Linked DNA regions of Homo sapiens: regions 1 and 3 are each linked to region 2. The links come from fine-mapping of genetic effects on gene expression. A gene starts in region 2. Each other region holds a variant in brackets. All regions are shown on one strand. Distances are from middle to middle. Region 1 overlaps PIGK (phosphatidylinositol glycan anchor biosynthesis class K). Region 2 holds the start of PIGK (phosphatidylinositol glycan anchor biosynthesis class K). Region 3 overlaps PIGK (phosphatidylinositol glycan anchor biosynthesis class K).

Region 1 (4,000 bases), 96 kb before region 2:
ATTATACTTTGCAAGGGTTGATGATTGGGCAGGGTAAAGGATGCAGGGCAAGATTGTTTTCTCTTTTTAGTGACTCCAAAAAATTACTCTCAATGATATTTTTGCAGCTCTTTTTCCTTGTCACTAAGTACTATACACAATGGGTCAAAATGAAAGTTTTCTGAAATTAAATTTTATAATTAAATAATGCACAAAAGATAATCCTTATTTTATCCCATATTTTATGTAAGTAAGAATTCTAGTGTTAAACAGCAAGTAGCCTTTTAATATTGTGCTTTGAATGGGACTTTCAACTGTAATAGGGGTAGTCTAAATAGGGATAGACAGCCCAGAATGCCTTTCAGCTATAGCACATTGATTCTGAAAAACCTAACAAAAGCAATTACTTCTCAGCGATTAAAAATCTTGTTTCTTTCAAAAGAATAAAATGAAATGCAAACCTGGTGTATTATCTGAGCTACAGGAAGTTGTTCAGCATATTTCAGAGGTTCCATTAGTTTCTCATCCATCTGGTCTTCCTTATAGCTGGAAAAGATAATTTAAAAACACAGAGCTAAGGCAAATACTATTTTGAAATATAGCAAATATTTAAATATGTCAAATATGAAATATAGTAAAATGCATAGATTTTTTTTGAAATAATCAGTATTTATCAATAATCTTTGAAACACTACCATTGAAAAATTTTAAATGACTATAGAAGTATTCAGACTACATTAAGTAACTATGCAATAAAATGAGCTAGCATCACTTAATGTTCTCAGATCCTGTCTTTCTCTGAGACAAAAATGTTTCAGAATTCTCTGTCCAAAAGAGGGTGTTTCTTTCATAGCACTTAAAGGTCTTCAAAACCTGGCTCCAACCAAACTCAAGCCTCATCTCCAGCAACCCTTTCTCTATTTAACAGTCTACTGTTTTAGTTATATTTAACTACTGGCCAAACCCCATTGGGACTTGCACCTCCAGGAGTCTCTCAGTTTCCCCGTGCTGTTATATCTGTTTGGACCAACCAACAATTCTCTTCTTTATTTATTCTTCTTTTTAATATATTAATTTGTTTATCGCCATCTAGGTATATTATTTTCACTTCCTTGAAGATGAAACCCATGTCTTCTTCTTTGTATATCTAATATTTATCAAAAAGACTCAAATGTTTATTGACTGAATAATAAATATATGAATAAAATGAAATAAAAATAATTCTGAGAGGTTATTTTATATAGACAATATTTCTAATATCTACATGTACAATGAGATACAAAGCTGATATAATCCATATCTAGGACAATATGAAACAGTAAATTTAAAAACTTTTCAAATGAAGAAAATGTAGTATAATGATTTTTAAAATTACTGACCCTTTCAGAAATAGCAAGTAAACATTTGATTTCAAGACAATAAAACCTAAAAACATTTAAACTTCCTTTTGCCTTTTCTGTGAATTACACATCAGCTTATCAACTTAAAAATTACTAAACTTTAATTATCTTGAAAAATAAATGAAACAAGATTGGCTAAGTCTCTAGGGCTTCAGTTAAGGAATCTAATGAGAACTCTAGAATCTCTCCCATGAAAAAGGCAGATATACAAAAAAAGACAAAATTTTCATATGATTTAAGAGCTTCAAGAACCTCTTATCTAGGTAAAAGTTTGTGGATATCTTGCAGAATTTGCATAAAAATAACTAGCTTAATTTGAGAGAACTCTGAAGATTCTCACTAATGATGGAAAAAAAAAACTGCCTCAAAACATGTTTCACAGAGACAGAAAGCAGAATGGTGGCTGCCAGGAGCTGGGAGGAGGGGACACTGGGGAGTAATTGTTTAACAGATAGAGGTTCCGTTCGCAAGATGAAAAAAGTTCTGGAGATGGATGGGGGGATGATAGTTACACAATAATATAAATGTATTTAATGCCACTAAAGTGTATACTGAAAAATGATTAAAATGATACGTTTTATGTTATGTATTTGTTATGGGCTGAATTGTGCCCTTCAACAAACTCCAAAATTCACATTTTGAAGCCTAACCACCAGTACCTTAGAACGTGACTGTATTTGTAGACAGGGTCTTTAAAGTAGTAATTAGCTTACATGAGGTCATTAGGGTTGATCCTACTCAAATATGACTGGTATCTTTATAAGAGGAGGAGCGCAGGACACCGAGACAGTAAAGATCACATGAAGACACTAGAGGAAAATGGCC[A/G]TCTACACGTCAAGGAGAGAGACCTTAGGAGAAATCAATCCTGCTGACATCATCTAGCCTCCAGACTGTGAGGAAATACATTTATGTTGTTTAAGCCATCCAGTCTCTGGTATTTTGTTATGGCAACCCTAGCAAACTAATATCTATTAGCATTAGATATTTTTACCTCAATTAAAAAATAAACTAAAGTAAATACTCATTGACCAAAAAAAAACACAACTTGCTTTAAAGCATTTCACAGTGTATCTTTTAAAAGTTTATTTACATTATGTATAAAAAACACATACAGGCCAGGCACAGTGGCTCACGCCTGTAATCCCAGCACTTTGGGAGGCCGAGGCGGGTGCATCTCTTGAAGTCAGGAATTCGAGACCAGCCTGGCCAACACAGTGAAACCTCGTCTCTACTAAAAATACAAAAATTAGCCAGGCATGGTGGTGCGCACCTGTAGTCCCAGCTGCTTGGGAGGCTGAGGCAGGAGAACTGCTTGAACCCGGGAGATGGAGGTTGCAGTGAGCCAAGACTGCGCCACTGCACTCCAGCCTGGGAGACAGAGCAAGAGTCTCAAAACAAACAAACAACAAAAAAAAAAACACACACACGCAGCAACAAAAGAAAAAGCAGACAAACTGTATAGACATCATCAAATTTCAAGACTCCTTTGTTTCAAAGGACACAATCAGAATGAAAAAACAGTCTACAGAATGGGAGAAACTTTTTGCAAATCATATAACCAAAAAGGGACTTGTATTAAGAATGCATAAATACAACTCAAGAATAAAAAAGCGAACAACTCAATATTTTTCCTTCCTTATCAAGGACATTCTTAAGTGCAAATGATGTATTTTTGTTTGTTTCTTTTCTACTGTGGTCAATGGTGGGAAGAATACAGTGACCACTTGTGCAGTTTGATTCCAGTGCCTTGATTCCTGTTAAGGCACCAGCAGTTTTAATAAATATCTTCTGAAAAAATAAAAATTAAATCACTGACATTAATTCTAAGAGTATAAAAGAAATATGACAAAGTCACTCTTCATTGGCTCTTCCAAAAATCTAAAACAAGATGAAATACATTTTTTTCTCACAAAATGTCTCTTACTCAATATAAAAGATATTCTTTAGGTATACAAAAATATTTGAAATCTGGCAACTTGTTTTGAATAACTTTTTAAAATGCCATGTAGCTGTTATGAAAAATTCCAAACATGTTTCTGTATTTTTTATATTATTTTCACGGAAACATTTAAAAGTGAGCTGCAGATACCATGACAGTTCACATCTAAATATTTCAGCAAAATGTTTATCAACCAAGGATATGTCTGAAATGTTTCTTAATAACAGCAGCACTTTTTCCAAATGCAATTCACAAGTAATCTTGAGTATCACTGTGGATATATGAGTATTTTACTTATCCAGTGTTTCATAATCAATTAAAATGATTACTCATTTTTATAATTTCTTAAAAACACATGTCCATTGCTTTCTTGCTTTATTTTGATATCAAGAAGTGTGATGCTAAATTGGTTCTATGTTAATTATTTTCATTTTTAATTACTTTTAATTTTTAAATTACTAATTTATTGGCTTAGAAGCTCAGGCAGCTTTTATTTTCCCTTTTGTTTTAAGGTCTAATACTATATCTTAAAAGTTGATTGTTATAAATCAAGTTTCCCAGGTATACAGGAAACAGGAGTCCTTTCAATATGGAAATTCAGATCTCATTTTATTTCAAAAAAAGTTTTATTATAACTTTAAATACCATATCTGTTAATTTTCCACTTGTTTCCTAGTTCAAG
Region 2 (4,000 bases):
AAATACAATTCCAGACAGAGGGGAGACAGCTCTAATGTGAGAAAAAGCTTAAAGGTTTTGAGAAACTGAAAGAAAGTTAGCCTAACTAGAAGTTTGAAAGAGAAAGAAAAAATTTGAAGTGTAGTCAGGGCCCAAAAAATATGCAGGGTTTTTGTTTGTGGGTCATGGTGGAGAGTTTAGAGCAACATTAAGGTGATCTTTTGAGCAACATCAAGGTCCCTGGGTGACATGATTGGAACTGCATTTTTAAAAGTTACTCTGGCTTCAATTTGGAGAACAGATTGAAAGGAAAAAACAACGACTCAAGGCAAAACATTTAGGAAACTGTTGCTCCTATCTCTAAGTGAGATATGATGGAATAACAGTACAAACCATACACGGGTTATAGTAAATGAGTGCTGTATCAAGTGTACAAATTACAAGAGTAAAGGCAAAGGTAAGAGATAGGGAAACGTTCTACAGAGGTTATGCCTTTACTGTATCTTAGCACATGAACAGAGGAAACACAATGTATAAAATATTGTAATGTGAAAAAGCACAGCAATTATGTAACTACAAAAAACAGTAATAGTATCCAAGATGAAGCAGTCAAAGTTAGAATAAAGGAGGGAAACAGAACTTCTATTTACTCATATTTATGTTCTCTAAAAATTATGCTATATAAACATCAAATATATAAATTAACAGTAATTCATAAATATATATGAAGTTCATGCTCAATATCTTTTTTTAACTGATAGGGTGTGTATTCAAAAAGTTTGGAGTCCACTGGTCTAAGCTCAAGGTGCCCAGGTGGTGGGGAGAAGAGGTTCCAATATGGAACACTGGAAAAGTAGGCAAGCACCAGGTCATAACGTTTAGACTTTATTCTGTATGCAATTAATAAATATTTAAAAGATTTCATCAGAAGAATAACCTGATCAGGCTTACATTTCGTGTAGACGAATCTAGCACCAAACTCAGGGAGTATGGAGGCCTATGGAAAACAAGATAAAGTAATCGCAAGAGTCTAGACAAGAAGTGATCACAGCCTGAATTAAGTCAGTGGAACTGGAGAGGTGAGGGCAATTTTAAGAACTCAGATCACAAAATTTAGTGATAATTAGAATATGGGATAAAGAGATTAAGACTCTCAGGTTTCTAGCTTAGGAGCAGCACATCTGGTTGAGAAATGGAGGAGAAAAGGGGTGCTTAGTTTTTCAGTGTCTTTTTAAGAGGAGGTAGGATAAGCAGAAGATAAAACTTTGCACACGGATTTTCAAATGTCTCCTGACTATCCCGGATTCTTAGTCAGCTGGATATGCAGGCCTGAAAAAGATACCAGACATCTAGATTGTAGACCGGGACTGAGGAATCATCAGAGTATGGTGAATAGTAAAAGCATTATAGAGCACCAGAACATCCTGTGTCCACGTTTAAAAATGGGAAGCTGGAGGAGCCCAGGATAAAACTAAGCACCCCTTTTCTCTTCCATTTCTTAACCCAGACGTGTTGCCCCTAAGCCAGAAACTTGAGAGTTTTAATAAACACTTATATTTATCCCATGTTCTAATTATCACTAAATTCTATTATCTGGATTCTTAAAATTGCCCTCATCTCTCCAGTTCCGTCTGACTCCTATCAAAACAGAGGGCTGCAGTTGAGTAGTAGGAAAGCAGTTGCTGCACACTGACATTTCACGAGCCTCTTGCTCGTATTTCACCTAAGAACTGCACACATGTAGGAGCAAAGGATCAGGTCCTCCTCTGTCTCCGAGGGTTTGATTATTTCAATTCATCGTTTTAAAACGCTGAAACAGACCAACAGTGTCCTAACCCGTGCCCAGTGATACCCTCCTCAAACCCAGCCTGGGTCAGGGGCTGATTGACTCCAGGAGGCGTCCCTCAGCTACTGTGTATCGGACATCTGCTGGAGGGCTCACAGCCGGCCTCCCGGCTGTGGTCAAATGAGCCTGACTCCTACCTCGATATGACTAGCGGCCACGCTGCCGAAGGACAAGAGCAACACAGTTGCCAAGACAGTCGCAGCCCGGCTGAGGCTGTCGGTGACGGCCATGTTTACCGGCTTCAGACTTCCCGCACCTGAAGGGGCGGAGGCAGTGCCGTAAAGTAGCGCTGCGGGTTTTTGCGACACCATCCGCGCCTCTTCGAGGTGGCCCTCTGGTCCGGCTTTAGAACTCTGCGGTTTTGTGGAGCTCGAGAGTCCGGGACAAGGTAGACGCAGGATATTGACCTTTTTATTTTTAACTGCATTTTCAGTTTGGAGGTTGTAAAATAGGTATAACATTTAAGAAAAAAAATTGAAAGGTGAGTGGAGGGAAAACCCGTAACTCCTTAAACTTTAAAAACTTATTTCTCTGTTCCCTTATTTATTTTATTTATTTATTTATTTATTTATTTATTTATTTTGCCGAGTGCTGCCAATTCTTTGAAAATATGAAGCTGGATGTGGTGGGAAGAACAAGCGTTTTGGCACAAAAAGATGATTAATTGGATAAACTATAAATGGAAAATGTGGGTGGGCGCTGCAATTTAGAGGCTTGGGGTCTACTACCTGGTGAAAGGATTAACATGGGAAGCTAGTTACGTTTTTGTTTCTTGAGTATCTTCTGTAATTATGGAACTAAAGCCTATCTGGAAGAGACACAGCTGGTGTATATGTATGGTCCACCATTCTCTTTATTATGTGAGTTCAGTTTTAATTTATGCATTTCATCTAGTATGACATAAACGTTTCCACGCTGCTTCCTCACAATTTTAACATTTAATGGTGAGATAAAATTCCATCCATTATTGATGCCTCAGCCAAAGTAATTGTCCCTCTGCTGCACAATGCAAAGTTTTTAAGTTTTACTATGAAAATAATATTGTAAAGAGTATCTTTTGTGTGTTTGGCTTTTTAAATCTGTTGAATTATTTTGTTTGTATAATTTTCCTGAACTAGGAATTTGGGGTCAAAATATTCCAAAACATTTTAATAACTATAAATGATGTTGCTTTCCAAAATGAACAAGCTTACAGCACTATCAGAATACACAACACCAAACCATACCATTTTTTTTCCTTTAAATTCTTTGGTATGAAATGTTACCCCTAGGTAACTATACTTATAATTCTTTGGTTACTATCAAGATCTGATGTCTTTCTTGTGTTTCTAAACTATCTCTGTGTCCTCTGATGTAAATTCTTTGTTTATATATTTATGTTTTGCATATGAATTTGAATAATATATTTATAAATAAGTAACATTAGCCTTTGCCATATTTTATGCTATTGCTTTTCCCATTCTCTTGTCTCTCTTTTCCTTTTATTTGTTTCTTTTGCTATTGCACTTTGTGAGAGGTTTCATGCTATTTAGTCAAATTTAGGTTTTCCGTTACGTGAATCCTAGAAAGTAAATACACTGCCAGAATATCTTCCATGTATTCATTAATTCAACAGATATCTATTGGATGCTGATGATTATGAAACAAAGTAGCAAAGATAAGAAGCCATTTGCTCATTCTGCTCCTTTGCCAGCAATATTTCACAAAGCCCCTGACTCATTGACTGTGAGCAGCCTTGTGGAAGAATGCCTTGAAGACCATAAGCAGGATAGGGAATAGGTTTGCACATCTCTTGCCTGAATCACTGAATTTTTACAAAAGGTAAGTTTGGTGATCCTAGCCCTTGCCTCTTCCTGTACATAAGATAATGTCTGACAAGATTAATGATTATGCCTCAAATTCATGACCAGATGTAACTTCATACCCACACTTTGATGAGACTTTACTTGTATTAACCCATTTTCATACTGCTATGAAGAAATACCCAAGACTGCATAATTTCTAAAGAAAAAGGCTTAGTGGACTCACAGTTCCACATGGCTGGGGAAGCCTCACAATCATGGTAGAAGATGAAGAAGGAGCAAAGGCACATCTTACATGGCAGCAGGTGAGAGAGCATGTGCAGAGGAACTACCCTTTATAAAACCATCAGAGGCCAGGTGCAGTGGCTCACAC
Region 3 (4,000 bases), 120 kb before region 2:
AACCATCTTACTAATCAAGTTGACCACACCACAGACTCATGACGGAGCCTAACTGAGAACACAACTGCCCAGCTAAACTCATCCTAAATTGCCAACTTGCAGAATTGTGAGCTAAATAAATGACTGATGTTTTAAATTACTAAGTTTGGAGTGGTTCATGATACATCAAAAGTTATGAAATACATCCACAGCGGTGACAACGTGAAGAAAAGAAAAACCCTGATCCTTTATCACCATAACAAAACAGAAAAAGTTCCCATCTCCATACTTGTAGCTTCGGGTTTTTCTTTTTTTTTTTTTTTTGTTTTTTTGTTTTTTTGTTTTGTTTTGTTTTGTTTGTTTTTTTAATTATGCTTTAAGTTTTAGGGTACATGTGTTTATTGCGGCATTATTCACAATAGCAAAGACTTGGAACCAACCCAAATGTCCAACAATGATAGACTGGATTAAGAAAATGTGGCACATATACACCATGGAATACTATGCAGCCATAAAAAATGATGAGTTCATGTCCTTTGTAGGGACATGGATGAAATTGGAAAGCTTCGGGTTTTTCTAACAATGGCATAAGAACAGCATGACGGGCAGCAAATCAAGCCCTCAGTTTAGTGGAGATGCAGTGCTGCTCTCCTCTAGCTCTCCTTTATAGTCTTCCGGAAAGAGAGAAACTCCAACTGCCACCATGCCAGGAATTGCTTTCAAGGAAATGACGGTGACACAGGGGAATCTAGAAACTAACTCATCTAGCTTCCCTTTAGGCATCTTCCAACTGAAGTCTAGATCTGAAGTTTGGTTCCTCTTCCCTTTAAAGTTACCAATTAGAGGTAATCACATGTTGCGCCCGTGCTGGAGAAATGCACACTACCCAAGATCTTTATGTACCTTTTTCCATGATAAATGTGCAAGGCAGTTAATGTAATCTAGAAAATTAAGGATGATTTGTTTTCAACTATGATTTGGGTTTTAATTGAAAGATGACCACAGTTTTTCCTTAATCGTGATTTTAACTTTCCTGTGATAAGAACACCCATTGTTAACATTATTAGTTAACATTACTCTGGAATTTCTAGCCAATCCAGACATAACATGTAGGAAGGGAAAGTAAATTTTCATTACTCATAGATATGATTATTAGATATCAAAAAGCTCCATAAAATCAATTCTTACAATTATTGAGAATAAAGGGCTCGGATTTCATATAAATATTTTAAAAAATCATTATCTTTCAAGTATGTCAGCAAATATGAGTCAGAAAATAGAAAAAAATGTCATTCACAATAACAATTAAAAAAAACTATGAATACCCATAACATGAGATGTAAGGTAAACAATCTACATTACTCTACAGAGAGGGGTAAACAGTCAGAAATATTAAAAAATATATATAACGCTAAACAATAATGTGATTCCAATGCAAGTGTAGAAAGACGAATAAAACAGAATAGAAACTAGACAATCAGTCCAGTATCCCAGGATTTAGTATATTATAAAAGGGCTATCACAGATCAGTGGGAAAGGGAATAGTAGTCCTACTGGTGCTGTAAACAATGGATTAGCATTTGGAAACAAAATCAATTTTGTTCCTAACCCAACACTGTAAACAAAAACACACTTTACATGGTTCAGAATTAAATGTAAAAATAGAAGAAGAAAAAAAAGAGATAAAATGTAGGAGAATCTGTACGATAAGGCTATTAATAAGCCTAAA[G/A]GCAGTGAGTGAAAATAAAGAGAAGGTGGAGGAAATTTTTTTTTTTTTGAGACAGGGTCTTTGTCACACAGGCTGGTGTGCAGTGGCATTATCTCAGCTCACTGCAGACTCCTCAATCTCCCAAGTTCAAGTGATCCTCCTGCCTCAACACCTCCCTCAAGTAGCTGGGATTACAGGTGTATGCCACCATGCCTGGCTAATTTTTGTATTTTTGGCAGAGATAGGGTTTTGCCATGTTGACCTGGCTGGTCTCAAACTCCTGAGCTCAAGCAATCCTCCACCCACCTTGGCCTCCTAAAGTGTTAGGATTACCAGGGTGAACTACCACGCCTGGCTGCAAAGGTATTTTTACAAAAGTTTTTGGAAAGATCTGTATTTCAAAATGTATAGAAATCAAATTAAAAGGCACATAAATGGAATTTATGACAGAAAAGGGGATAAATTCAATACATGAGGGTCTCCCGCAAATCAGTAAGACACAAGGGTATATCAATAAATGGAACAGGGAAATATTTTCACAAAAGAATAATTACAAATGGCTAACACTTGAAAAAAATCATTTTTCTTCATCATAAACACAATATATTAAGTATTTCTTTCTCTTCTTACAATTAAACCAGTAAATGTTAATAAGGACAGTTAACTTTTCTGGAAAATAACCCATTAACATGTTTAGAGGTCTTTAAAATATTCATTTACTCTAATTCCTAGGATTTGTAACACTTCTAGGATCTATATTAAGGAATTCAGAAACGCTCACAAAGGTTTTCTTCTCAGTGGCTACATAATAAAAAACAGGAAGGAATCTATAGTCACATAATACAGGAAACATTGTACATCCACATATTAATCAATAAAAATATTTTCAAATAATTTTAATGATTTGGAGATGCTTATACTAAAATAGTAAAATGGAAACAAGATGCAAATTGAATCTGAAATATGATGTTTCCTATAACAATATTCAAAGAAGGGAAACATACTAAAGTCTTAGTGTTTTTCTGGGGGAAGCAGGAATACAGTTGGCTTTAAATCTCTTCTCTATACTTACCTAAGCTTTTGAAAATGTTTTCTACAATGAGTATGTCTTACTTTAGTTATTTTGGGGAGAAATTGGATTATGCAGCAAAAATCTGTATTGAAAGACTCCACCTAGAAGAATCTTCATATATTCCTTTCCAAATAGGAGAAACACTGCAGCAACACTGTTTATTACTGATGTCCAACTTTAAGAAAAAGTAACCCGGATAGCATTACAGCAACATAATGTAATAAAGTGCTTTTTCAGTATGTGTTTAATGATATCGCTGACATATGACAACAATGCTATTTTTAAAACAACTATATGTAACCTTTTAGACATTTTACAATGATTTTACTTACAATCAAGTGACAAAATTGGTATAATTATTGCATTTGGCAGTATAACTGCATTTGAGGTAAGTTCATATTAAAGCATATCTTGTAATTTCATTTGTGTCCATTAGAGCTTCTTAAAAAAATGACTGACTTTATGTATTAAGGTACTCTAGTGACTGCCATTAAATGCACTCCTCTTTTTTTAAACTTTCACAATAAGTTACAATACAAAGGTGAAAAGCGTACATAAAACACGGCAATATGTTATAAGCAAACACTTAAAAGCTTAAGGGCTACCCTCTTATTGAAATGCCTTAATATTTCAAATTTAAAAGAGAGGTAGCTAAGCAACACTGTACTTCCAATTGCGAATAGTACTCAGTTTCCCCCTCCATGTTGCTAGGAGAACATTACCACATAACTTTAAAAATAGTTAACAGAGCACAGATCTAAGTATTAAAATTATGTAAAAAGAAAAAACTTAGGATTTTGAAAACTGTACACATTTATTGGGAAGCAAATGGAAAATTTCCAAGGTTTCAATGAGATTCTTAAATGTATAATGAGCATATGAGTTCAGTTAAATTGTATTTTAAGGACAGAAAGTATAAAACAATCTACTAAGGTTATAGTTATAATTATTTCAGAAAATAGCTGTGTTCAACTATTTAATTAGTGGTGGTTTATTAGTATTTCCAGTCTATCTATATCCTTTATATAAAATGCAATTTGTATTTCTCTAATTATATTAATAGTGTAAGTCAAACTGTGGTAGGCAGAATGTAAGACAGCTTCTAAGATTCCCTCAACCTGGGATAAATGCCCTATATAATACCTATCCCTTGAGTCTGGACAAGACCTGTGAATATGATGCACTATCACTCCTATGATTAGGCTGAATTATATGGCATATGAGGGATTCTGAGGATATAA

What was found. PIP is the estimated chance that this variant, and not a neighbour inherited with it, causes the effect.
Region 1: its variant is fine-mapped to the expression of PIGK in blood mononuclear cells (TOPMed, PIP above 0.99). The same link has a PIP of 0.9 or more in skeletal muscle.
Region 3: its variant is fine-mapped to the expression of PIGK in whole blood (INTERVAL, PIP above 0.99).

What each region holds. Positions count from the first base shown.
Region 1 is chr1:77,121,835-77,125,834 of GRCh38, forward strand. PIGK (phosphatidylinositol glycan anchor biosynthesis class K) reads right to left here. Exons shown (of 11, transcript NM_005482.3): 10 at 441-525. Among named protein-coding and RNA genes, the nearest start is that of MIR7156, 64 kb to the left of the region's middle. The variant A/G (reference allele first, on the strand shown) is at 2,205.
Region 2 is chr1:77,217,348-77,221,347 of GRCh38, forward strand. PIGK (phosphatidylinositol glycan anchor biosynthesis class K) reads right to left here and starts at 2,083. Exons shown (of 11, transcript NM_005482.3): 1 at 1,963-2,083. The coding sequence starts at 2,055. It overlaps LOC105378808 (a long non-coding RNA gene), which reads left to right and starts at 2,173. Exons shown (of 3, transcript XR_001738109.2): 1 at 2,173-2,306; 2 at 3,441-3,646. RefSeq lists an enhancer at 1,767-1,876.
Region 3 is chr1:77,096,595-77,100,594 of GRCh38, forward strand. The region is part of intron 10 of PIGK (phosphatidylinositol glycan anchor biosynthesis class K); the gene reads right to left. Among named protein-coding and RNA genes, the nearest start is that of MIR7156, 38 kb to the left of the region's middle. The variant G/A (reference allele first, on the strand shown) is at 1,709.